Linked DNA regions of Homo sapiens. The protein of the gene in region 2 purifies or fractionates together with the protein of the main gene of each other region. This does not show direct contact. Each region holds a gene or a part of one and is shown on either strand. Other genes may lie near its edges.

What was found.
Region 1: the proteins of COX15 (region 2) and SFXN1 purify together in Homo sapiens (affinity purification with mass spectrometry; 2 studies listed by BioGRID and IntAct, with this or other methods). This does not show direct contact.
Region 3: the proteins of COX15 (region 2) and ATP5F1C purify together in Homo sapiens (affinity purification with mass spectrometry; 2 studies listed by BioGRID and IntAct, with this or other methods). This does not show direct contact.
Region 4: the proteins of COX15 (region 2) and SLC25A3 purify together in Homo sapiens (affinity purification with mass spectrometry; 2 studies listed by BioGRID and IntAct, with this or other methods). This does not show direct contact.

What each region holds. Positions count from the first base shown.
Region 1 is NC_000005.10:175,523,560-175,530,242, reverse strand, and holds the end of SFXN1 (sideroflexin-1), read right to left. Parts: intron 3,606-6,683; coding exon 3,509-3,605; 3' UTR 501-3,508; downstream 1-500. UniProt on the Homo sapiens protein: Amino acid transporter importing serine, an essential substrate of the mitochondrial branch of the one-carbon pathway, into mitochondria.
Region 2 is NC_000010.11:99,721,838-99,731,581, reverse strand, and holds part of COX15 (heme A synthase COX15), read left to right. Parts: intron 1-1,847; coding exon 1,848-2,029; intron 2,030-4,018; coding exon 4,019-4,141; intron 4,142-4,427; coding exon 4,428-4,614; intron 4,615-7,458; coding exon 7,459-7,626; intron 7,627-9,744. UniProt on the Homo sapiens protein: Catalyzes the second reaction in the biosynthesis of heme A, a prosthetic group of mitochondrial cytochrome c oxidase (CcO). Heme A is synthesized from heme B by two sequential enzymatic reactions catalyzed by heme O synthase (HOS) and heme A synthase (HAS).
Region 3 is NC_000010.11:7,803,472-7,809,340, reverse strand, and holds the end of ATP5F1C (ATP synthase F(1) complex subunit gamma, mitochondrial isoform L (liver) precursor), read right to left. Parts: intron 2,368-5,869; coding exon 2,361-2,367; 3' UTR 2,331-2,360; exon of another isoform or gene 2,325-2,330; intron 1,683-2,324; coding exon of another isoform or gene 1,679-1,682; 3' UTR 1,540-1,678; downstream 1-1,539.
Region 4 is NC_000012.12:98,603,686-98,607,792, forward strand, and holds the end of SLC25A3 (solute carrier family 25 member 3 isoform b precursor), read left to right. Parts: 3' UTR 1-2,682; downstream 2,683-4,107. UniProt on the Homo sapiens protein: Inorganic ion transporter that transports phosphate or copper ions across the mitochondrial inner membrane into the matrix compartment. Mediates proton-coupled symport of phosphate ions necessary for mitochondrial oxidative phosphorylation of ADP to ATP.

The DNA.
Region 1 (6,683 bases), on a different chromosome or scaffold from region 2:
GACAACAGAGTTACTGTAGCAAAACAAATGCAGAAACATGGCCAAGGAAGTTAAAATGCTCAGCTCTGTATCAAGTCTTTTATTAAGGCACTCCCCAAACTTAGGTTAATTTAGACTTTCTCTGTTAGTAAATGCCAGTGCCAGGTTAGAATCAGATCAATAATATAGAAGCATGTTTCCATCACCGTCATGTGCAGAGGTGTTGGCCATCCAAGTTTCAAGCTGAAATCCATCCCCCACGCCCATCATTAATATTCCTGGAATCACATTGTCATAGGAGTTTGGGGGGTGGGTGGGTGTGCCTTTATGTATATGAGGTTCAAAAAGGTGGGAGACTGGTAGCCCAAAATAGAAATATATTTCTTGTTAAAGGCATAATACAAAAATATCTTTTCATTAGGAGTTGCTGATGGTACTGTAGATATTAACTTTGAATGAAAAGTACCATCAGTTGTAACACACAAACTGCTTTATCCTTTATGTACAAATAAAAGAGAGAATTTATTTTCATTCTGAGTTTATTTAACATTTCATCCAGTTGAACTGAAATAATACATGGCCTCCAACACTGGCAAGACGCTGTGCTAATACTGAAATAAAAGCTGCCAGTCAGTAAACACTTACAATCATCATCCTTTGTATCATGTTAATAGAAATATTAATAACTACTTAGCTTTATAAGCTTATTGCACTTCATGTGGATTTTTTTTTCTCCAGAAAAGGTATTTCTAAAAGATCGGCAAGGATTGCCAATCTTGATTTGTTCTTTCTTATAAACTGTGATCAACATACAGTTGATAGCTTTATATAAAAGCATTAAGAGTCTGAAGCATCAAAAAACAACGTTTAAAAAGATGCAGCTCCATGTTCATCATCCCTTTTATAATCTCTTTTTTTTTTTTTTGAGATGGAGTTTCGCTCTTGTTGCCCAGGCTGGAGTGCAATGGTGCGATCTTGGCTCACTGCAACCTCCAGCTCCCGGATTCAAGCGATTCTCCTACCTCAGCCTCCCGAGTAGCTGGGATTATAGGCATGTGCCTCCATGCCTGGCTAATTTTTTGTATTTTTAGTAGAGGCGGGGTTTCTCCATGTTGGCCAGGCTGGTCTCAAACTCCTGACCTCAGGTGATCCACCCGCCTCGGCCTCCCAAAGTGCTGGGATTACAGGGGTGAGCCACCGCACCCGGCCATTCCTTTTATAACCTTTCACACACATAACCGGAGTGTGTAAAATTTTGGTTAGTTTGTCAATCTTCTAACCAGTCATTAGCTCTTCACTGGAGGTTAACATTCTGAAATGGAGCTACACACTACCTGGTAGGGGGAGGACTCTGAGAGGAGCGGGACACCTGGGGCAGGCAGCAGTGCCTTAGCTTCTTATGAAAAGAGCCCTTCAGCACCTCATGGAGAGCTGCCCTGAATTTCAGGCTTTTACCACTTTATAAAGAGACGCGTCGAGGACAACAGAATCTGTCCAAGGCCAGAATGTCATGGGAAAACCGTTTTGCTTCCAATGGTTTAAGACAGAAAATCTAAATAAGAAGACTCTGGCAGCATCAAGGAAGGCTCTGAGTGGCCCAAAGCTTCAGATCTATTAATCCTTTCAGAGAAAAGAGAAACACAGACACAAGGCACGCCATTTTTTCTTTATGAGGAAATTCAGTCTGGTCACATTGTCAGAAAAAAAATCTACCAAAACTAAATAGTTTCTATATTTTTTTCATTTACAATCTCTGAATACAATGATCTACACTTCATGAAATGTCACCCCTCAGTATCCGTGGATGCTTGGTTCCAGGACCGCCCTCCGATACCAATATCTGCAGATGCTCAAGTTCCTGATATAAAATGGCACAGTATTTGCATATAACCTAGGCACATCCTCCTGTATACTTGCTAAATCATCTCTAGATTGCTTATAACACCTAATACAATGTAAGCACTATGTAAATAGTTGTTATACTGTATTGGTTTTTAAATTTGTATTATTTTTCATCGTTATGTATATTTTTTATCTTTTTAGAAAATATTTTCAGGCCGGGTGCGGTGGCTCACGCTTGTAATCCCAGCACCTTGGGAGGCCAAGGCGGGCGGATCACGAGGTCAGGAGATCGAGACCACAGTGAAACCCCGTCTCTACTAAAAATACAAAAAAATTAGCCGGGCGTGGTGGCGGGCGCCTGTAGTCCCAGCTTCTCAGAGAGGCTGAGGCAGGAGAACGGCGTGAACCCGGGAGGCGGAGCTTGCAGTGAGCCGAGACTACGCCACTGCACTCCAGCCTGGGTGACAGAGCGAGACTCCGTCTCAAAAAAAAAAAAAAAAAAAAAATTTTCCATCCAAACTTGGTTGAATTCACAGATATAGAGCTCACGGATACAGAGGGCCAACTGTCTATGACGTTAAACATCTACAGAGTTGAAACATAATCTGTCATATTAAATATATTATCTATGAAATCACTACAGATGATGTAAACAGTGGTACATGGTTTCATTATTTTCAAATGAAGTGGAATGCAACATACAATATTCAAGTAAAATTCATTGTGACTGATTCATACACACATTATCACTGTATCTTTCTGAAAGCCAAAGAGATCTATAAGGATGACAAGAAAAGACATGTAGGTAGCTGGAACTGTAGTCTCACTTCTTACCAAAAAAAAAACAATGAACTGGATTCAGCCCACTCATACAGCATTGGTATTGAATATACTTCCAAAATTTGACATTTGTACATTTCAGTTATTTCATTATTTGATGTAAATAATTGAATATAAAGTCAATAACTGCAAGGTAAGATTATCATCTTTATAAGAACAAAAAACAATAAATTAAAAGTCAACCAAGGCAATCCACTCACAATCTGAATGTATATAATGATCCAGCAGGGAAGGCATGTTGCAGTGGTCTGTGACTGACTTTTGGAAGGGGTGTGAAGGAGCTTTTACCCTCCAAATCCAAAAGCTTCATCACCTTCATTGGGCTAGCGCAATCCCCAAACTAGAAGCAAACTGCCCTTAATATTTCAGGGTAAGTTTTTATAGATTAGCCCAGAGCTTTTGTATTTTCCCAGTTCACTGCTGAGATCTCCTTGATTTGCAATGGGAGTGAGATGAAAATTCAGTATTTTAAACAGATTTCTTTTTTCACTGATTGATAATCAATAGAACATTTACTGACCATATACTGAGCACCTATTCTATGCCTACCAGTGCTTTTTTAAAACCTGGGTGAGGGCTGGTATATCGTCTTTGAAAAACAATGACTATAAAAGCTACAGGAAAGGTATTTCTATAAATCATAACATGATTCAGTGTAAGGGAGTATCAGGCACTTGGCCCACGCCAGGTGCTCTGTTAAAGTAGCAGCTTTATTCTAAAAGGCTAATGTGGATCTTTAAAAGGTTTCCGTAACTGGGAGAACCCAGGTTGAACAGGATTTTTCTCACCAGCATGGCTACACCAGCTTTGCAGTGGCAGAATGAGCTGCAGAGGTTTCCTCCCTGCTTTACAATCCCTTATTGAAGTACACGCGTCGCAATTCAGGATGGCTCTCTTGGATCTTAGCTTGCAACTCGGCCTCCAAGCTTGTCACAGACATGGAACTGGGATAAGGGAGAAATGACAGGGTTATTACACAGGCAGAGGTGAGAATCAGGACCTAGAAAGAGCAGGGAGAAGGCACAGGTGTGGAGATCCCAGGACTGGTACAGTGGGTCTTGTTGGAGAAATGCTTCATGCGGCTAGAAAACGAGATCACGTTCCTTTCAGAAAAATGTCACTCATAATGAAAGAAATGCACTGGAGAACCCAACACCCAACTTTTCCCTCTCATATCATTAAAAGGTGAAATCTCTTATTGCCGGCAAGAGTGTATGGTGATGACACTCTCAGGCCCTGCTGGTGTTGGAAAAACCATTTGTGGCAATGCCACTTCCTAAGAAAAACGTATCAATCATTTGCAATGTTCACCATTGATAAAAAAAGAGATATGCAATCAGTGAAATGCATAACATTGATAATCTGCCTACATTAATGTGCTTTTGTTTACTGTATGTAATACACGCTTATTAAAAAAATTTCAAAAAATACTAAAATGTACAAAAAAAAAAAAAAAACCAAAACATTTATAATCCCGCTGAGAGATAACCACTGTTAGTCTTTAAGTGCTTAAAAATGTATTTGAAGGTATTATGGGTGTATATATATTAAAGCTTATTCTTTAAGAGAAACGCACACTCATTAAAGTATAAAGAAAAATTGTCCAGAATACCTACCAGAAAAACTGCTAATATTTTGATATGTAATTAGTTTAAAAAAAATATTTGAGGCTGGGCGCAGTGGCTCACACCTGTAATCTCGGAGCTTTGTGAGGCTGAACCAGGAGGATTTCTTGAGGCCAGGAGTTTGAGACCAGCCTGGGCAACCTGGTGAGACCCAAATTTTTGTATCTATAAAAATAAAAAATAAGACAGGTGTGTTGGTGTATGCCTGTGGCTCCAGCTACTCAGGATGCTGAGGCAGGAGGGTTGCTCGAGCCCAGAAGTTCAAGGCTGTAGTGAGCTATGACTGTGCCATTGCACTCCAGCCTGGGCAAGAGAGTGAGACCCTGCCTCAAAAACAATAAAAAAATTGATTAATATAGTTGACATGTGATAGACTGTAAGGTTAAAAAAAGTCAGGATATAAGCTTATATTTAAAATATGCAAAACAAATTTTAAAAATTACGAATATAGAAAAAAGGTAGGAAAAAAAATCCCATGATGGCTATTGTTTATGTAGTGGGCCTTTGAGTGATTTTAAATGATGATGACGACACTGATGATGGTAATGATAATGGCTATGACTTACAGCTCACTTGCTGGGCCAGACGTTATGCATTTTAACCCTTAGGAAAACTCTGTAAGTCCAGTATTATAATTGTACAGGTAAGGAAACCTGAGGTGCAACTGAGATGTTGAAGGCAGATCTTTCTTGATCCCAAAGCCCTGCTATACCACCTCTTGGTCTTTCTGTTTTGCCACTGATCTCTAAGTATCTGTAATTACTATGAATGTATGTTAAAGGCCCAAGTCTGATCTTGGAATTAAAGTTATTCAAACCTTGGTGGATGATGGGGAGTATTCTCTTTTTTATCTTCCAGGAGAGTTTGTTTGAAATTGGAATAATCTGTTTCTTGACAGTTGGGAGAAACTTACCTGTAAAACTACCTGTTTCTTGTGTTTTCTTTGTAGGAGGAAGATTAAATGCTGCTTCAGCTTCCTTAATGACTATCTGGCCTATTCTGACTTTCTAATTTTTCAGCTTTGCTAATATTTTTTCCAGAAATTTGTCTATTTTGCTTGTTTTCAAATCTGTTGGTATAATGTTGGTATTATTTTTAATCACTGCTGAACCTACAGTTATACCTCTTTTTCATTCATATTATTTGTACTTTTCTCTTTCTCTTTTTGTTTTGATTAATCTCACCAGACAACTGTCTATTTTGTTTCTATTTTCAAAGAACCAAGATTTCACTTTGTTGATCCTCTACTCTTTCTGTTATTTATTTTATTGATTTCTGATCTTCATCTCCTTCCTTCCTTCTTTTCTGATGTTTATTCTTTTGTGCTTTTTTTTTTTTAAGTTGGGACATTTAGTGCATTGATTTTCAGCTATTCTTCATAATATAAACATTTAAAGCTATAAATATCTCTCAAAGCAACACATTTGCTGCTTCTCAAAAATGTTAATAAAGAATGTTTTCATTATCACTTGTTCACATAGGAGACGGGAAACTGTGGTGCATTCATACAATGCACTATTATACAACAACAACAATGAATGGACTATAGGTACACACAATAATGTAGATGAATCTTAGTTCTGACACTGAATAAAAAGAACAAGTACTAGAAGACTATACATCTTATGACAGTGTGACACCCTTGTCTAAAAAGTTCCTAAGACAAACTAAAGATACATACACAAATATAAAATGCAAGAGCATGAAATTCAGCATAGTGGTTAAATCTGCAGGGGAGGCAGGGACACAGGTTGGGAGGAGCCTATAAGATGTAACTTATTGGAGATATATATATATATATATATATATATATATATATATATATATATATTTTTTTTTTTTTTTTTTTTTTTGAGACAGAATCTCGCACTGTTGCCCAGGCTGGAATGCAGTAGCGTGATCTTGGCTCACCACAGCCTCTGCCTACTGGGTTCGAGCGATTCTCCTGCCTCATTGGGCACTGAATTTGTGGATATTCATTATATTATTAGTATAAGTAAAATAAAAATAAGCAAAACAGGGTCATGCTTGGATCAATGAGGATACTATGTTATGAGCCAAGGAAAAACTGAGGAGCCAGAGACCTCAAGAAGCCAAACATACAATGTATAAACAACAAAACAGAGTAAGAAGCTATTTTAAAATACAGTAAAACAAAAGAGGATTGGTTTCTCAAATGTAAAACCACACGCTTTCTGAGGGCCTTGACCTAAGGACACTAGTAGTTACAGAAAGCTTTCCATTTCTACCCCTAGAGTTTCAATGAATCATAAAAAATAAATGTTGGGCTATATTTTATTTCTTGCAGCACTCAAAGAAAAAAGGCCAAAGTAGAAAGTTTCTCTATGGGTTTTCAAATCTAAAACCCTTTCAATCTGAAAATAATTACAGCTACAT
Region 2 (9,744 bases):
TTACTGCATCCTACAGAGAAGGAAATTGAGGCTTAAAGTTACTTTTCTAAAGGTGACTCAGTTAATCAGAAATAGGAAACCGAGCATGGATCTTTGGACTCACAGGGATATAGTAAGAAGAGGGCATGCATTTGCTTAACTAGTAATTATTGAGTGGTTATTATATATTAGGAACTGGAAAAAGAAAGATAAATATTACAAGACTCCTGCCCTGGAGGAAGTCAGTTTATTCATTTGCGAAATCCTTATCATGGTCTCATTATATAAAGGAACAGTGTTAGAAACAAAGCTAGCAGAAGGGAGAGAGCAAGACTGACCGGACACTGCCACCCCAAAGCTCATAGTTTAGTGGGAGATACAAACAGATGAACCTGAAGGTAGAGTGATGTGCTGCATAACAACATTTTGGTCAACAACAGGCCACAGATACAGTCATGGTCCCATAAGATTATAATGGAGCTGCCTTTCCAAGTGTACCTTTTTTTTAAAAAAAAATCTTTTTCTCTAAATTTCTTTTTTAGAGACAGCGTTTTACTTTGTCACCCAGGCTGGAGTGCTGTGGCATGATTATAACTCACTGCAGCCTCCAGCTTGGAAATCCTGGCCTCAAGCATCCTCTTACCTCAGTCACTTAAGTAGCTAAGACTACAAGTGTGTGCCACTGTGCCTAATTTTTGAAAAAATAGAGATAGGGGGTCTCGCTACATTGCCCAGGCTGGTCTCGAACTACTGGCCTCAAGTGATCCTCTCACCTTGGCCTCCCAAAGCCTTGGGATTATAGGCTTGAGCCGTTGCACCTGGCCCCATTTTTAAATCTTTTATACCATATTTTTACTGTAATTTTTCTATGTTTAGATAAACAAATACCATTGTGTTACAGTATTCGGTACATAATATGCCATACAGATTTATAGCCTAAGAGCAATAAGTCATACCATATAGCTCAGGGGTGTAGTAGGCGATACCATCTAGATTTCTGTAAGTACTTTTTTTTTTGAGAGATGGAGTCTCACTTCATCGCCTAGGCTGGAGTGCAGTGGTGAGACCTTGGCTCACTGCAACCTCTGCCTCCCAGGTTCAAGTGATCCTGCCACCTCAGCCTCTCAAATAGCTGGGATTACAAGCATACACCACCATGCCCAGCTAATTTTTGTATTTTTGGTAAAGATGGGGTTTCACCATTTTGGCCAGGCTGGTCTTGAATTCCTGACCCAAGTGATCTCCCTGCCTCTGCCTCCCAAAGTGCTGGGATTACAGGTGTGAATCACTACACCCAGCCTTTAGATTTGTGTAAGTACATTCTATGAGGTTCACACAATGATGAAATTGCTTAAGAATGCATTTCACAGAACATGTGCCCCTGTTGTTAAGTGATGCTTGACTGTACATTACAGTGTATTAAGGGCTTTCCAGTGTGCTGTGGGAGTGACCTATTGCAGACCTTGAAGAGCCTGGGAATACATCCCAGAGGAGGTGACATGTAAGCGGAGATCTGCAGTAGGTATTATTAATCAGGGGAAAGGAAGTGTACAAGCCAGAGAGAAATGTTGAAAGACCTAGAGGTGAAAGAAAATATTCCATATCTGTAAGTAGAGTGAAGTCTGAGGGAAGTATTCAGAGATGAGAAGATTCATGTAGTTGGGGATAGGTTTGAGTGAGGCTAGATTTGAAAACCAATTGGAAAACCAGTTGGAAGGCTGATGCAGTAATCCAGATAAGAGATGATGACTTAACAAGACATGGCTGTGGGGATGCTATGGTACTTCGCGCTAATCAGAATGGGGTTGAGTGTGGGTAGCAGCCATTCCCTGTTTCTCCAGTTGTAATTTGTCTATCTTGATCTTTAGTGTGATTGCATCAGGCGCCCTTTGAGGCCAGGGCAATACAGCACCATCTCTGAAGTAGCTTTGCAATCTGGAAGGGGTACAGTGTCCCTTCCCTCAAAGGCTGCTGAGCGGGTGGTGGGCCGATGGCTCCTGGTCTGCAGTGGAACAGTGGCTGGAGCAGTTATTCTTGGTGGAGTAACTAGGTAAGTAATTTGCTCGTAGTGAGTCAGGTATTTGGATCATCAGTAGAAGCACAGGTTGACTGAGGAGAAAGGATTTTTTTTTTTTTTTTTTTTGAGACAGAGTCTTGCTCTGTTGGCCAGGCTGGAGTGCAGTGGTGTGATCTCGGCTGACTGCAACCTCCGTCTCCTGAGTTCAAGCGATTCTCCTGCCTCAGCCTCCCAAGTAGCTGGGACTAGGCGCGTGCCACCATATCTGGCTAATTTTTTGTATTTTTAGTAGAGACAGGGTTTCACCATGTTGGCCAGGCTGATCCAAACTCCTCACCTCAGGTGATCTGCCCACCTCGGCCTCCCAAAGTGCCAGGATTACAGGCATGAGCCACCATGCCCAGCTGGAGAAAGGAATTTTACAGAGCATCTAGTCTAGCTCCCTCATTGTATAGATGGAGAAACCGAGGCCTTAAAGAAGGAACATGTCTGATGGCTTGCCCTGCCATAGAACAGTTGAGTGTTTTATTAGTAGGAGCCTTCTATAAAGACTGGTTTATGTCTTAACTGGTACCTGTGCATTGTTTATGTATCTTTTCTCTTTCAATCAGAGTCCAAGTTTGTCTCAAAACTTTTTTTACAGTTTGTTTGAATTAAACCCAAAGAAGTTCTGTACATCACAATTGGTTCATGTTTCTTAGGTTTGTTTAAATCTATCAAGAGACTATAGATTTAGACACTCCTCCCTTTCCCCCTCTTCTAGTTGCTGAGGAAACTCTAGTCATTTGTCCTATGGTTATGCACAGTTTAGATTTTGCTGACTGCATAACTGTGTGATATTTAACATGTTCCTTTGTCCCGTCTATTTCCTGTGAATGAGTAGTTGGTTGATCAGATTCAAATTAGGGATGAGGGAGCAAAATACTTCAGTAGGTGAATAGAACATTCGTGAATATCTGGTGTCTATTATAGATGTTAACAGCCATTAATTACCATTGCCTAGATCCATTATTTCATTAGCGTAGCAAAATTATAATATTTTATTAGCTCAACTCTAAAAAGCTTTCCCTCATCATCAGTTTGGATATCCCAAGGTATAGTTTGTATAGGAAAGGCAGGATACATACTTGATTCTTCTTTCCCTTTATTTACCAATTTTCAAAATAATAAATTGGTCCCCCAAATCCTCCAAAGGCAACAAATAAAGGATTTGAATTTTTAAGGCTCATTATGAGATCATAGGTTCAAACACACTCGATAATGTTTCGGTCCGTTGTGATGATGGTGTTAGTGATTTGCTCAGATTGTCCCATCTTTAGTCAGTGGGCATCTCCTGAAATTGGCTCTAGTGACTTTTTGGCAGGGCCCTAATTACCTTTGATAGTTTCCTTACTTTCTAGTATGACAAGATGTTCCGAGCTCATCTTGTGCATTTCTTGCCTCAGGCCTAAAATCAGGCTTTTACTCTAGGAATCCTAATTCCTTTTGGTAAAAAAGTTTCTAGTTTTAATCAAATGTGTCTTCCTCAAATTCTCTTCACATTCCACGTCCCTTATTTCAAAATACCTTATGTGTTATATAGGTTGTTATGAGCAAGTGAAACAAATTTGAATTTTATTGTCTTTAAATTCACCCAAGAATCTAAACCTGTATACATGTAACAGGTCTCTTTTCCCTGGGTAAGGAATGTTGGTTATGCATTTAGAACACATTTCTTTGGCTGTAGGGGTTGATTTTACCTGTTGAGGAATGCTAGTGAAAGGAAGAATTGGGAAAAAAAAAAGAATTGGGGAGAGTTGAATAAAAGGATTGAGAGAATATAAGGGTAAATAAATTTGTACCTGATGGCAGCTGTTTCTGACAAAATTCCAAGCAGTAACAGAGAAATGTCTCAAAAGAGGAAACAAGGAAACAATGTGTTTACCTTTAACAAGGTTAAGTTCAGATCCACTTGTTGCTATAAACCTTTTGTGAGTAATCCAGCCTCACGCATACACCCCAAAATTTCTTTCCTATCCTAAGGTTGACAGAGTCTGGCCTCTCGATGGTAGATTGGCATTTAATAAAGGAGATGAAGCCACCTACAAGCCAAGAGGAATGGGAAGCAGAATTCCAAAGATACCAGCAATTTCCAGAATTTAAAATGTAAGTATTAGAGAAAATTAGGTAAACATCCCAGTAGGCCCATTTGATCTTTTGGACTTAAACCCTTCAGAATGGTTAGATTATTTCATGAACTTCGGTTCAGTTATGTTTAGTCAGCTTGTCTTCTAAGCCCCCAAATCCAAAGTCATCCTGAGGTCGTTGATGAGGAAGAGGGCAGACCTACCAAGTTGCAGGACTGAGAAAGAAAGGTTTTGCATTCCGTAAGAAAATAAAAATCAGAAGGATGTTTCCTCCTCCTCCTTTTTTGACTTTCCATTTCACCCAGCTTGAATCATGATATGACACTGACAGAATTCAAGTTCATCTGGTACATGGAGTACTCACACCGAATGTGGGGTCGCCTTGTAGGCCTTGTGTACATCCTGCCTGCTGCCTACTTTTGGAGAAAGGGCTGGCTCAGCCGTGGCATGAAAGGACGTGTTCTTGCCCTCTGTGGCCTCGTCTGCTTCCAGGTAAGATTTATTCAAGGTTGAGAAACCAGAAATGCTCCCAGGAGCTTCCTAGTTGGCATTGTTTTTTTTTTTTTTTTTTTGAGACGGAGTCTCGCTGTGTCGCCCAGGCTGGAGTGCAGTGGCGCGTGATCTCGGCTCACTGCAAGCTCCGCCTCCCAGGTTCATACCATTCTCCTGCCTCAGCCTCTCGGTAGCTGGGACTGCAGGCACCTGCCACTATGCCTGGCTAATTTTTTGTATTTTTAGTAGAGACGGGGTTTCACCATGTTAGCCAGGATGGTCTCGATCTCCTGACCTCGTGATCTGCCTGCCTTGGCCTCCCAAAGTGCTGGGATTACAGGTGTGAGCCACTGCGCCCGGCCCCTAGTTGGCATTCTTTTTAAGGAAATAATCTCTGAGGCACTTTAATAGAATAGGTAAGAGCATGCATTTTAGTGTCACAGGCCTAGCTTCAAGCCCCAGCTCTGACACTTAGGGTAAATTACCTAACCTCTGAAAGCTATGATTTCTTTACCTGTAAATGGGGATAATAACAGTGCCACCATGTACAGTCGTGTAAATATTAAATGAGATAATCCATATTTAAAGTACTTAGCTTAGTGCCTGGAATCAGTAAAGCACTCAGTAGTATATTTTCATGTGCTGCAAGATGTAGTTTGTTTCCCATCATGGGTGTCTCCCTAGGTTCTTGTCTCTCCTCTTTTTCTAACTTGTCTGCTATAGGAAAGAGGGATCCCTGTGCTAGAATGCCACAGAAGCATACAGGAAAATTCCAAAAGAGAGAAACACTTTGTGGGATGAAGGATTGTAGAATACCCATGTAGCTGAGAGATATTCAGATATAAATGGCAATTAAAATCACGTAAGTTGAGCGCCTCTTAAGGAAAGACTCCCACAGTTAACAGGTTAGTACTGCTAGAATGATGAAAAAAAAAAAGTTGGGTGAAACTGAGCAACAAATTAAAAGAGAAGACACATAGGAGTATTTGGGTCAAGGTTTAGAGATCCTAAAGGAGATTATCAGGGCATCAAAGAAACATCAAAATTTAATCAGGAGGAAGCTAATTGGTTAATTTAACTCAGAAGTGGTAAGAAAATGAGTCAGTTAGAAGGGATTAAGGCCGGGTGCAGTGGCTCACACCTGTAATCCCAACACTTTCGGAAGCCAAGGTGGGGGATCAGGAGTTCCAGACCAGCCTGGCCAACATGGTAAAACCCTGTCTCTACCTAAAATACCAAAATTAGCTGGGCATGCTGGCGTGGGCCTGTAGTCCCAGCTATTTCGGAGGCTGAGGCAGAAGAATTGATTGAACCGGGGAGGCGGAGGTTGCAGCGAGCTGAGAGGTTGCACCACTGCACTCCAGCCTGGGCAACAGAGCAAGACTCTGGCTCAAAAAAAATAAATAAAGAAAGAAGGGATTAAGGAGGGAGATGAGAGAGAAGAAATAGAGGCAGCAGAAACAATAATCAAAGTCTAATAGTAACCAGAGAAAGGCATGTAGAACAAAATGAAAGTTAACATTTTAGAATTAGAAAAACAAGCCAACACTGAAAACACTATTAGGGAGGCAGAAATTAAAGATGTCAGATAAGGTATGGGAGAAGAAAGTGGGCTAGTGAATCAACTGTGTACGTCTTCATCTTTCAATGTCTCTTGCAGATGAAATCAAGGTAATTAGAATATCCAGGGTAATCTTGAAAGGGGAGAGAAATGCCCAAAAAGATTTCCTGAAGAGTATATATTTAGAAGTGGCAGAGTCCACCTCTTTGACCTGATTCTACTGGCAAGTGGGAGTGAAAGGGCTGTCTTATTTCATATGATTGGAACTAACAATTGTTTGGTTAATTGAAAAAGCCAGTTAAAGCAGAGAATCATAGAATATGATACATAACATAAACTTTTAAACTTAAATCTGTACGTTCATTACCAACTTTTACAAAATCAAGGCCTTTTCTTTGACTATGCGTCCCCAGATTGGCATTCAACTGCAGGTTTCTTATATCCCCATAAACTGTGGTTTTGCTTAAAGCGGAGTGGGAACTTAGATATTTGCAAAGCGATCTGCATGCAAAACCTTATTGATTTTTATGATTTTCCCCTGAAACTTTTATAATTGTCTTATTCCAACCTAACTTGACAGTAGATGTTTTTAAGCATTTACCTTTATTAAGTTTCTCCAAAACATTCAATCTAGTTTTATGAGATATATCCATGGACCTTTTTTTTTTTTTAAAGCTCATCAGCTACTGTTAGTGTTAGTGTATTTTATGCATGGCCCAAGACAATTCTTCCAGTGTGGCCCAGGGAAGCCAAAAGATCAGACACTTCTGATCTAAATAGTAGTTAAGTATTAATGGTGATATGTGAAGAACTGTGGATAAATCATGAATCTTGGGACACTGCGTATTGGGGAGGGTATGGAAAGAGGAGGGGTGGGGTAGAGAGTACTCCTGATAGCTCATTTCCTCAGTAAAGTTGAACAGATCAGGCCGGGTGTGGTGGCTTACGCCTGTAATACCAGCACTTTGGTAGGCTGAGGTGGGCGGATCACGAGGTCAAGAGATTGACACCATCTGGCCAACATGGTGAAACCCCATCTCTACTAAAAATACAAAAATTAGCCAGGCGTGGTGATGCGCAACTGTAGTCCCAGCCACTTGGGAGGCTGAGGCAGGAGAATCACTTGAACCTGGGAGGCGGAGATTGCAGTGAGCCAAGATCCCGCCACTGCACTCCAGCCTGGTGACAGAGTGAGACTCTGTCTCAAAAAAACAACAAAAAAAAGAAAGTTGAACAGATCATTTTAACCTTGTTTTGTTTGCTTCATCTCTTGGGGGTTCTAGGGTCTGTTGGGATGGTATATGGTGAAAAGTGGACTAGAAGAAAAATCAGACTCCCATGACATCCCTCGGGTCAGTCAGTACCGCCTTGCTGCCCACCTGGGATCAGCCCTGGTTCTTTATTGTGCCAGCTTGTGGACCTCACTGTCACTGCTACTCCCTCCGCACAAGGTAAGAGTTGTGTGCAAATATCTGTGTTCAAGACCCCGCTTTTGGTTCTTTTGGATATATATCTAGAAGTAGAATTGCTGGATCATATAGGAGTTGAATATTTTGCCAACATTTTCTATTGGCAAAGGTGAAACAAATTGAAAAATAGAGTGGGAGGGAGTACCAACAACAAGAAATATCCCAGTCGCTTTACCTCTGACTCCTAGAAGGGATGGTGGATGGCAAAGTGAGAAAGATCAGAACAGAGGTGTTTCTGAACTTCTGGTGTGGACAAGAGCTATATTGTTCGTTAAATGGGGACCTGCCAGTTAAGTCTAATAGTAAACCTTAGTGATTTTGTCTGAAGTATTTTTCTGTCTGCTGATTAAAGCAAAGTACTAGTTTTTCATTTTATGCTTTGATTTAAAAGCAAGGTATAACATTTTTTTGAGGCCTTCATTAATAATAGAGGTTCCAAGACACCACACCCTTATAGGACATTTTTTTCCCTAGAATTTTTTTTTAAATGAGTCTTGGCCAGGCGCGGTGGCTCACGCCTGTAATCCCAGCACTTTGGGAGGCAGAGGCAGGCAGATCACCTGAGGTTGGGAGTTTGAGACCAGCCTGACCAACCTGGAGAAACCCCATCTCTACTAAAAATATAAAATTAGCCAGCCATGGTGGCACATGCCTGTAATCCCAGCTACTCGAGAGGCTGAGGCAGGAGAATTGCTTGAATCCGGGAGGCAGAGGTTGCAGTGAGCTGAGATGGCACCATTGCAGTCTAGCCTGGGCAACAAGAGCGAAATTCCATCTCCAAAAAAAAAAAAAGAGTCTTATATTAGGTATTGAAATCATGGGTTGACCTGAGTAAGCTGTTCCTGGAGAAAAGTTTGAGATGACAGCAGGACTCTTAAGTCGAATCATCCATTAGGTACTTGGAGCTAGTAGCTAGATCCCAGTAAGGACTGGACGTGTTGTCTTGGCAGTCATTCCCACAGAGAAGCCAAATTGGGTTGAAATATTGATACAGTAGACAACCACTGAATAATTCCACATCTGAAAAATAAGGAATTATTTGAAAGTCTCCTGACTTTCAAAGCCAAACTTCATTTATTTACTTATGTATTTATTTATTTATTTGAGATGGAGTCTTGCTCTGTTGCCCAGGCTGGAGTGCAGTGGTGTGACCTTGGCTCACTGCAACCTCCACCTCCCGGGTTCAAGCAATTCTTCAGCCTCAGCCTCCCGAGTAGCTGGGACTACAGGCGCACACCACCATGCTCGGCTAATTTTCTGTATTTTTAGTAGAGACAGGGTTTCACCATGTTGGCCAGGCTGCTCTTAAACTCCTGACCTCAGGTGATCCACCCGCCTCGGCCTCCCAAAGTTCTGGGATTACAGGTGTGAGCCACCGTGCCCATCAAAGCCAAACTTCTAAAATGAATTCATTTTAATTCAGACTTCTAAAATGAATTCATCTTAATGAATTCATTTTGCCTGCATCTATAGCTGCTGCTTCCTGACAATCTATTCCTTCTTTTCAGTCCCTGTAATTATCTTCCTCACCCAACCCAATACATACACACTCACACATTTACCCACACTTACACATAAACCCACACACTCTTGCTACTGAAATTGTACTCTTAAAGGTTACTGATGACTTTATCAATTGTTTTTCTCTGTTAGTTTAGATTCACCTAATTACAAAAAGGATTTGAGATGCTACCCAATGAGCCATATAGTGCTATGCTGTCCAACACAGTAGCTACTAGCTACATATGGCTATTTAAATTTTAACTAATTAAGGCTGGGCACGGTGGCTCACACCTGTAATCCCAGCACTTTGGGAGGCTGAGGCGGGTGGATCATTTGAGGTCAGGAGTTTGAGACCAGCCTGGCCAACATAGTGAAACCCCCATCTCTACTAAAAGTTAAAAAATTAGCTGGGCAATAGTGGCGCGCACCTGTAATCCCAGCTACTTGGGAGGCTGAGGCAGGAGAATCGCTTGAGCCTGGGAGGTGGAGGTTGCAGTGAGCCAAGATTGTGCCACTGCACTCCAGTCTGGGCGACAAAGTGAGAAAAAAAATTTTTTTAATTAAATAAAATTTATTTACATAAGCTTTTTGTTTATT
Region 3 (5,869 bases), about 92 Mb from region 2:
GAAAGATTAAGTAACTTGCCCAAGGTCACAGCTGTTAAGGGCTGAGCTAGTATTCCAGTTCAGACACAGATTATTCTTACTTATGTTGACTGATTTCAAATTCCTGCTTTTCCTCCTTCCATGATGTCTAGGACACTCAAATCACCCTCACAAATGTGTTCTGCTCTCCTAGAAACTGGAGGTGGGTCAAGCCAAGCTTAGAAGCAAAATACAAAACAGGATGGGCATGGTGGCTCACACCTGTAATTCCAGCACTTTGCAGGGCTAAGGAGGATCACTTGAGCCCAGGAGTTCAAGACCAGACTGGGCAAAATAGCAAGACCCCATCTCTAAAAAAAAAATTTTTTTTTAAATTAGCCAGGTATAGTGGCGTGCACACACACACACACACATACACACAGCCTCCAGAGGCACGTGGTTCGTTGCTAACATTCCCAAAAGGTATCTTGTACTGGTTCACACTACACCTCCATCTGATTCCTCAGTTGTGAGCTGTTTCTTTCTCCTAGTCTCAGCCACCAACCCCTTCAGAAGTGGCTCCTGAAAACTTTGAGGGGAGTTAGAAAATGACTTTGAAGCTCTGGTCAGTTCACTGAACCTTTTTATTCATTACCACGAATATAGCTGTAAATATTTAAAGAATCCATTCTAAATACATGCATTCATTTGTTTTTAAAAGAGGAGCTTGTTAAGAATGGGTTTTATATTGTTTATAATTTTATGTATTTTGGAATTTATATATTACTTTTGTAATTAAAAAAAACCCAAAAAACTAAGTTATCAATTTTAAACAAATAGGGAAAAGCCTGAAATTTTGGCATGGCCAACTCAGAGTGTGGAGTCAACGCAGGCATCTAATCTTAATTGTGATCTAAATGTGAGTATCGTACTTTTCTCAGTGTTTAGAAAAGATGTTTTAAATAATTTAGAGTAAGTATATGCTTGCAATTTTGTATCCAGAATTCCAAGCAAATGCTTCCTGTGGCATTTTTTTTTTTTTTTTGGAACAGAGTCTTACTCTGTTGCCCAGGCTGGAGTACAGTGGCGCGATCTCAGCTCACTGCAACCTCTGCCTCCCAGGTTTAACCGATTCTCCTGCCTCAGCCTCCTGAGTAGCTGGGATTACAAGTGTGCACCATTTTTGTATTTTGTTTTGTTTTTAGTAGAAACAGGGTTTCACCATGTTGGCCAGGCTAGTCTCAAATTCCTGACCTCCAGTGATCCACCTTGAGTCTCAGTCTCCCAAAGTGTTAGGACTGCAGGCATGAGCCACCGTGCCTGGTCTTGTTGACTGTTCTTTAAGGCTGTAATAAGGCACAGAACTGGGCTGAGGCTGTGGCTGCAGCCCTTTCCCTCTACGTTGTCCCCATAGAGGCTAGACATTTTAAGGTCAGTGGAGCACTACCAAATCAAAAGAGCCTCTTAAATTGTCTTCTACTAAAAAATTTTAATAGTAGCATATTAATATTTTTAAATGTTTTAGTATCATCTCATTTCAAAAACTATATCTATTGTTCTTATATATAAGAAAAACAATGATTTTATTTTAAGTTGTTTATTTTAAGATAATTTACAAATATCTTGCTGTCTTCAGTAATTCAAATAATGGAGGAACAGTTTCTTCGGACAAAGGCAGCAGTAAGCTAAAAACAAAATCAACTGGCTGAATTTTCCTTCTTTACCTGAAAAACAAAGTACAGAACAAGTAAGAAATCAAACAGCATTTTTTGGGAAAATAATGTCAAGAGATAATAATACATATTTAAGTGGGGTACAGAGAACTGAATTTACACAATAAAGTGTTACCCTATACCAGTGATTCTAAAATTTTGGTCTGGGGAACCTTTCATGGGGTTCATGAGGTCAAAACTATTTTCATGATAATGTTATTTTGCCTGTTATATTCTCATTCTCGAGTATACAGTAGAGTTTTCCAGAGGCCACATGATCCATGACATCACAACAAAATGAATAGAGACAGATGAAAATCTAGCTGGCTTCTGCTACATGAATCAGACATTAAGGGGTCCAGAGACCATAAAGTGTGACAACCACCACTCTTCACAACCTATATATAATATCTCAAAATAATGTTAATTCTCTATCCTCAAAGTTTATTTCCTTATATCTACATTTTCTATGATCAACACACTCACTACAAAAAAGTCCACTAGCGTTGCCCAGGTGCTCCCGTGAGTTGGCTGCTACTGTGAAGTGGCCCATCCATCTAAATCTCTCAGAGGACAATTCTAGGATTACTAAATTAGCTTAACTTATATCTGAATAGGTTTCTTTTCTGAACAGACATGGGAAGAATGTGTGAACTTTACCTCTTGTCTGAGGATGGAACTTGATTTTCATTAATCCCTGGTTATTATATTAGAAGAAAAAGACAAACACAAAACAAGCAGGTCAAGAAGCAATCCATGCTAGTTAATCACATATGCTTTCCAATGAAAAAAAGTCAATTGTTAAACTTGATACCTTGAGTACATCATGCAAAAATACTTACCACAAGATTCCTTTGAAACAGACTCAATGACTGTTATAAAAAGTCATAGATTTCAATCCAGGTTAGAAGCAATAAAAACATGCTCATGCAAGTAGGCAAGACTATGAATATGTAATTTAAATTACAATTTTTCTATAAATTAACACAATATATTTAGAGGTTTTTTTTTTTTTTGGAGATGGAGTCTTGTTCTGTTGCCCAGGCTGGAGTGCAGTGGCGTGATCTCAGCTCACTGCAACCTCCTCCTGGGTTCAAGTCATTCTCCTGCCTCAGCCTCCCGAGTAGCTGGGATTACAGGTGCCCGCCACCACGCCCAGCTAATTTTTGTACTTTTTTAGTAGAGACGGGGTTTTGCCATGTTGGCCAGGCTGGTCTGGAACTCCTGACCTCAGGTGATCCACCCGCCTCGGCCTCCCAAAGTGCTGGGATTACAGGCATGAGCCACTGCGCCTGGCCATATTTAGTTTTTAGGCTGGCAACTAATACTTGGACCTCGAATACTATGGTTTACTCATGTTCTTAATTATATTACTAAATAGCCAAATATGTTTATTTTGTTTTTTGATCTTTTTCTTTTCCAAGTATGTTTAAATATTCAAGTCTTGATTCAGAATAACTGATAGGTTACAGAGCATGCAAACCCATTCACAAGCAATCCAACCTTGGCACTGCATAGCTAAGTTTTTGTATAAGGATTTAGACTACCTTCCTAGGAAGCAAAAACTTAATACTCAATTTCCAATTATGTGGATTCCTTTTTCTAAATTCTTGGTTTTGTGCAGTGGCACGATCATAGCTCACCGCAGCCTAAAACTCCTGGGCTCAAGCAATCCTCCTGCCTCAATTTCCTGAGTAGCTAGGACAACAGGCACATGCCACCAGGCCTGGCTAATTTTTTCATTTTTGTAGAGATGGGGTCTTGCTATGTTGCTCAGGCTTGTCTTGAACTCCTGGGCTCAAGCAATCCACTCGCTTCGGTCTCCCAAAATGCTGGGATTACAAGCATGAGCCAATGCACCCAGCTGTTTCTGTTACTTTTAAATAGGTTTCCTGCATTTCTTTTTTTTTTTTTTTTTTTTTTTGAGAAGGAGTCTTGCTCTTTTGCCCAGGCTGGAGTGCAGTGGCGCAATCTCGGCTCACTGCAAGCTCCGCCTCCCAGGTTCATGCCATTCTCCTGCCTCAGCCTCCATAGTAGCTGGGACTACAGGCGCCCACCACCACGCCCAGCTAATTTTTTGTATTTTTAGTAGAGACGGGGTTTCACCGAGTTAGCCAGGATGGTCTCAATCTCCTGACCTTGTGATCCGCCCACCTCTGCCTCCCAAAGTGCTGAGATTACAGGCGTCAGCCCCTGCGCCCGGCCAGGTTTCCTGCATTTCTAATGAAGAAATAGGCTGGTCCTCAATTTTGCAGAAGTTGTATCATCATAGGTCATACCTAACATTCGTTTGTCAAGAGCAAAAAAACCCCCTTGGGTTCTCTGGATCTCACACAGCCCACAAACCTTCAGAATGTGGTTCCTTCCCGCAGGCTTTGTCACACTTAAGATCCAAGAACAAATCAGCCTGGCTTTAACATGGGGTAGATGGCAAGAAGGATAATGGCTAATAGAAGGTTTTAGTCCTTGTATTAGTCCCCATGTTACAGATGACAAAGCTGAGTAACAGAGAGAGTATCCTAACCAAGTTCATCAAGCTAGACACCATGAGACAGTATTCTGTGATGCTGATAGAACATTGGTGACCAGGCTGTGAATGGGTTAGTCCTAACACAGCTGTGCTTAGAAAGTAAAATAAGAGAAGAATGCTTAGGATAGCGAGGCTGATGGATCCAACTAACAACTTACACAAAGGTCTCTGTTGGCTCAAAAAGTTCTAGTTGTGTCTCTCTGGCATTCTGCCCAGTTTCTGCCCTTGAAAAGTAACACTTAAGGAACACTTTAAATAGTGATGAACTTTTCCCTGACTCTTAAAACCATGGACCCACATTTTCATACACCCAATAAAATGTTATTTGTCCCTCTTCTGAACTTCCAGTTCTGAATACATATGGCATTTCATTCATTCATTCAACATTCACGAAGGAGGTATGTACCAGGCAATGGGGACACAAAAGTGAATAAGATATGGTCCCATCCTAGCCTCGAGGAGCACACAGACAAATAAAAAGCCAATTCCTCATACAAGGCTGTAAGAGCTAAGCTAAATGGAAGACAGGATGCTGCAGAAGGCTGCCTCACTCAGACTGAAGGAAGGAGTGTTTTCTGGAAGAAAGGATTCCCCCAGCTGAGTAAGGAAGGATACACAGGAGGCAGTCAGATGAAGAATCAAGGGAGCAAGGGAAGAAATAGTGGCTTTTCAGGCTGCAGCACATGCCACTCCCTGGCCGCGAGAAAGAGTGACGAATCTGTAGATCTGGAAGTAGATCAAGGTGGCTGAGGTTCAAGGACGTGAGAAATGGTAATGGTAAGAGACTGGACTGGGAAGAGTGCTGGTGACCAGAAAATATAGGATCACATACATCGAGTGTTTCTGCAGAATGAGTGTATAACAGAGAATGGATTTTGTTATTTTCCTCATAACACTGTCACAAGAATAGGCAAATTTTTTCGGTGAAGGGCCACACAGCAAGTATTCTGCACTCTGTGGGTCACACGCTATCACTCTCCTTTTTCTTATATCCCTTTAAAAATGCAGAACCCATTCTTAGCTCCAGGCCACAGTTTAGCAACCTCTGTTCTGCTGTGACTTCTTATTTAGTGTCTGCCTTTACTGTGAAGACTGAGCTCTCTGAAGGCAAATACTGTTACCACTGTATCCTCAGTGTCTAGCACAGGGCCTGACACTTAAGGGGCACTCAAATAATTACCTTTTTGAACCCAGGAGAGAAATGACAAGGATCTGCATTAAGTGGGCATAAAGAAGGGGGAAGATTCAAGAGATAGTTAGAAGGTAAAACTTAAAGAGCATGGTAACTGATTAGCAGGAGGTAAGAAGGAACGAGTCAAAAAGAACTTACTACACGTTTTATCTAATCACAATTACTTGTATGTTTCTTATCCTATTAGAATATAAGTGCCTTAAAAGAGAGAATCACATCCTTAACACTGTGTCTAGCACTGTACTGTGCACATAGTGGGTATTCAACTTAATAACTTTTTGAATAAAATTCCCATTATCTTAACCTTTTTTTCATAAACATTAAAGTTTTTCAACAACTAAGAAATTTTCTTGAGGAAAGCAGTATATAGTTGGCCCTCAGTATCCATGGATTCAACCAACAGCCGATGTAAAATATTTGGAAAAAAGACAAAAATAATGATAAAATAATAAAAACAAAAACCAATACAACAACAAT
Region 4 (4,107 bases), on a different chromosome or scaffold from region 2:
GGCATTGATACAAAATACGCTGTGTTCAAGCTATGGAGCCTGCCACTGTAGTTACTAGAGTTACGGTTCAAAGCTATTTCTGAGAGAAAGCCACTTCATCCTCAAAACCCAAGAGGCCCACTTAAAGTGATGCGAATTCTCATTTCAGGTTTTTAAATTATACTAAAAGATTCTAGTAAGAAAATTTTAATATGTATGTATTGGTGTTCTTTTTACATTTCATTTAATGAAATGTCTACTGTCAATACGATAAAGCAGAACCCAGTGGAGTAAGAATACACGAAACTGCCAGGCACAGTGGGTCATGCCTGTAAACCCAGCATTCTGGGAGGCCGAGGCGGGTGGATCACCTGAGGTCGGGAGTTCAAGACCAGCCTGACCAACATGGAGAAACCCTGTCTCTACTAAAAATACAAAATTAGCTGCGGTGGTGGTGCGTGCCTGTAATCCCAGCTACTCAGGAGGCTGAGGCAGGAGAATCGCTTGAACCCGGGAGGCGGAGGTTGTGGTGAGCCAAGATTGCGCCATTGCACTCCAGCCTGGGCAACAACAGCGAAACTCTGTCTCAAAAAAAAAAAATATATATATATATATATATATATGAAGCTGATAGTTGAATTATGTTGATTCAGGGACAAGATAGCATTGCATAGTAACTTCCAGTAGGATCAAATATTTTGAGAGTGGTTAAAACGCCAAGGAATCCTGATTTTATGAAATTATGCCTTCTGATAGGTGCAACAAAATTGAACAGAAGAGTAACAGCTTAACTAAACCTCCATTGTGTGAAAGTTTTATGAAATGTTTTGACTTTTTTTTTTTTTTCCCTAGAGAACAGGGTTCTTGCTTTGTCGCCCAGGCTGGAGTACAGCCTTGAACTCCTGGGCTCAAGCGATCCTCCTGCCTCAGCCTCCCAGTTAGCTGACACAATTGGGATGTGCCACTACTTGCTCCTGTTTTTTCATAGACGGGTCCTGCTGTTGCTCAGGCTGGTCTCGGATTCCTGGCCTCAAGCAACTTTCCTGCCCCAGCTCCTAAAGCGGCCAGGGTTACAGGTAGCCGCCTTGTCTGTCCCGTTTCGACCATATTTTATTTTTGAGAAGGTCTTGCTCTGTCGCCAGACTGGAGTGCAGTGGCACGATGATAGCTCACTGCAGCCTCGATCTCCCAAGCTCAAGTGATCCTCCCACCTCAGCCTCTTGAATAACTGGGACTGCAAGTGTGGACCACCATGTCTGGCTAATGTTTTTTATTTTTAGCAGAAATGAGGTCTTGCTATGTTGCCAAGGCTAGTCTTGAACTCCTGAGCTCAAGCGAGCCTTCTGCCTTGGCCTTCCAAAGGGCTGGGATTAGAGGGCTGAGCCACCACACTTGGCCAACCATATTTTATTTTTTATATTTTTATTTTATTTGATCCTTGTTCTGAAACCATAAAGTGAGTTTAACATTTCTGGCTGGGCACAGTGGCTCATGCCTGTAATTCTAACACTTTAGGAGACCAAGGCAGGAGGATGCCTTGAGCCCAGGAGTTTGAGACCATCCTGGACAACATAATGAGAAAAGAAAATACAAAAATTAAGGGGTGTGGTGACACATGCCTGTAGTCTCAACTATTTGGGAGGCTGAGGCAGGAGGATTGCTTGAGCCCGAGAGGTTGAGGCTACAGTGAGCCATGTTTACGCCATTGCAGTCCAGCCTGGGCGACAGAGTGAAACCCTGTCTCAAAAAAAAAGTAACATTTCTATATGATTTTTGGGATCGACATGTCCATAATGTTAATGAAGCGCATAGCAGTCACTAGTAAATTAGGAGTTATACATTGCTTCTATAGCATCAGAAATTGTATATCAGGCCAGGTGCAAAAGCTCACTCCTGAAATCCAAGCACTTTGGGAGGCTGAGGTGGGCGGATTGCTTGAGGTCAGGAGTTCAAGAACAGCCTGGCCAACATGATGAAACCCCAGGTCTCTACTAAAAATACAAAAATTGGTCAGGCATGGTGGTGCATGCCTGTAATTCCAGCTACTCGGGAGGCTGAGGCAGGAGAATTGCTTGAACCCGGGAGGCAGAGGTTGCAGTGAGCCAAGATTGTGCCACTGCACTCCAGCCTGGGCGACAGAGCCAGACTGTCTGAGGAAGAAATTGTATATCAGGCTGGGCACAGTGGCTCATACCCGTAATCCCAGCACTTTGGGAGGCCCAGGCTGGGTATCACTTGAGCCCAGGAGTTGGAGACCAGCCTGGGCAACAAAGTGAGACCCCTCTCTCTACAAAAAATAAATTAGCCAGGCATGGTGGCACGTGCCTGTAATCTCAGCTACTTAGGAAGCTGAAGGAGGATCGTCTGAGCCCAGGAGTTTGAGGCTGCAATGAGCTACAATCACACCCCTGCACTCCGGCCTGGGCGACAGAGTGATAACCTGTCTAAAAAAATAAAAATAAATTGTATAATCATATTGCAATTTTCTTTGCATTACTGATGAGGAAAAATCTCAAAGTAATTGTAAAAAATCCTGGATATCACATAGTTGAGAAACAAAGTTATTTTAAACTTACAGGACTCTGTAGTTCACAGTTGAACACTGTGGCTTCCTGAAATATCAAAGAATAATGTACATTAATAAGCCAGCTACTATCGGCATCTTGTAAAAATTAAAAAATTAAACATAAATAAAAGTTCAAACTATGTGTTGAATCATTTGTCTTTTACAAGCCAGCCCTGACTTCACATTCTCAGAGGTGTTCATAGAAGTGCATGAGATGTTAACCTCACCACTGATAAGGTTTATGAATCTCCTGGTTATTAAGGTGTGACCTGACAAGTTTCCTAGAAAGCAGCTATTCCAGAGTTTTCATGTGTGTTTTTATAGACACTGAAGTGCAGTATGCAATAGTCACTTAATAAGTATTGCTACACTGAATGAAAGAGCCTTGGGGATGTGTCTCTTACACAAGATATAATTCCTACCTAATACTGTGAATAATAATTTGATGTTCAAATCAGCCAGCTTGCTTTGCAGAATCCAGTGTATTGCAAAGTTTGAAGATGGAAAATAATTCATGTGACAGGCCATATCATTATTCCAAGACCCATGATCTTAACACTAGAGGGCTATATTAGTCAAGGTTAAAACTGCTAAATCTCAAGGAAGCATTAACATCTGAAAATATGGTATACCCAACTTTTACTCATGGATAAGTTTGACGGTAAAATGTCATTGTACTTGATGTTAATAGGTTATTGGGAACTGTTACGTTAAGTGAAATCACAAATAATGAAACTATTTTTACCACAGCCTAGTTGATATAAATGAGTTAAGTTCCTACAACATATTTCTGGTCACGAAAATATAACCAAACTAATAAAGACCAAAACAATTCTAATATTAAGCATTAAATAAATATGAGCTATACATGCATTTAAGGAAGATTATGGTCGGTCGCGGTGGCTCACACTTGTAATCCCAGCACTTTGGGAGGCCCTGGCAGGTGGATCATGAAGTCAGTAGTTCGAGACCAGCCTGGCCAACACAGTGAAACCCCCATCTCTACTGAAAATACAAAAATTCACTTAGGCATGGTGACGGGCGTCTGTAATCCCAGCTACTCGGGAGGCTGGGGCAGGAGAATCGCTTGAACCCAGAAGGCAGAGGTTGCAGTGAGCCGAAATCGTGCCACTGCACTCCAGCCTGGGTGACAGAGCTAGACTTCGTCTCAAAAAATGAAAAAAAGACTTCCTCTCAAGCTTGGCGTTTGGTCGATGGGGACCCACAGAGGAAGCAAGTTGGCAGAGTGAGGTGGGTCTACGGAGAAACAGGAACAACTCCCAAGATCACATGGCTCCTGAGGTAGAGAAAGTGCCTCTACTGACGCTGGCCGTTTGTTCCAGATCCCAGGAGGACGCGTTATACCACAATTCTTTTGGGGGGATGCTGGTGAGATACTTATAAGAAATCCTCTTCTTTCTTTCCTTTTCTTTTTTCTTTTTTTTTAGACGCAGTCTCGCTTTGTCACTCAGGCTGGAGTGCAATGGCGCAATCTTGGCTCACTGCAACCTCCGCCTCCCAGGTTCAAGCGATTCTCCTGCCTCAGCCTCCCGAGTAGCTGG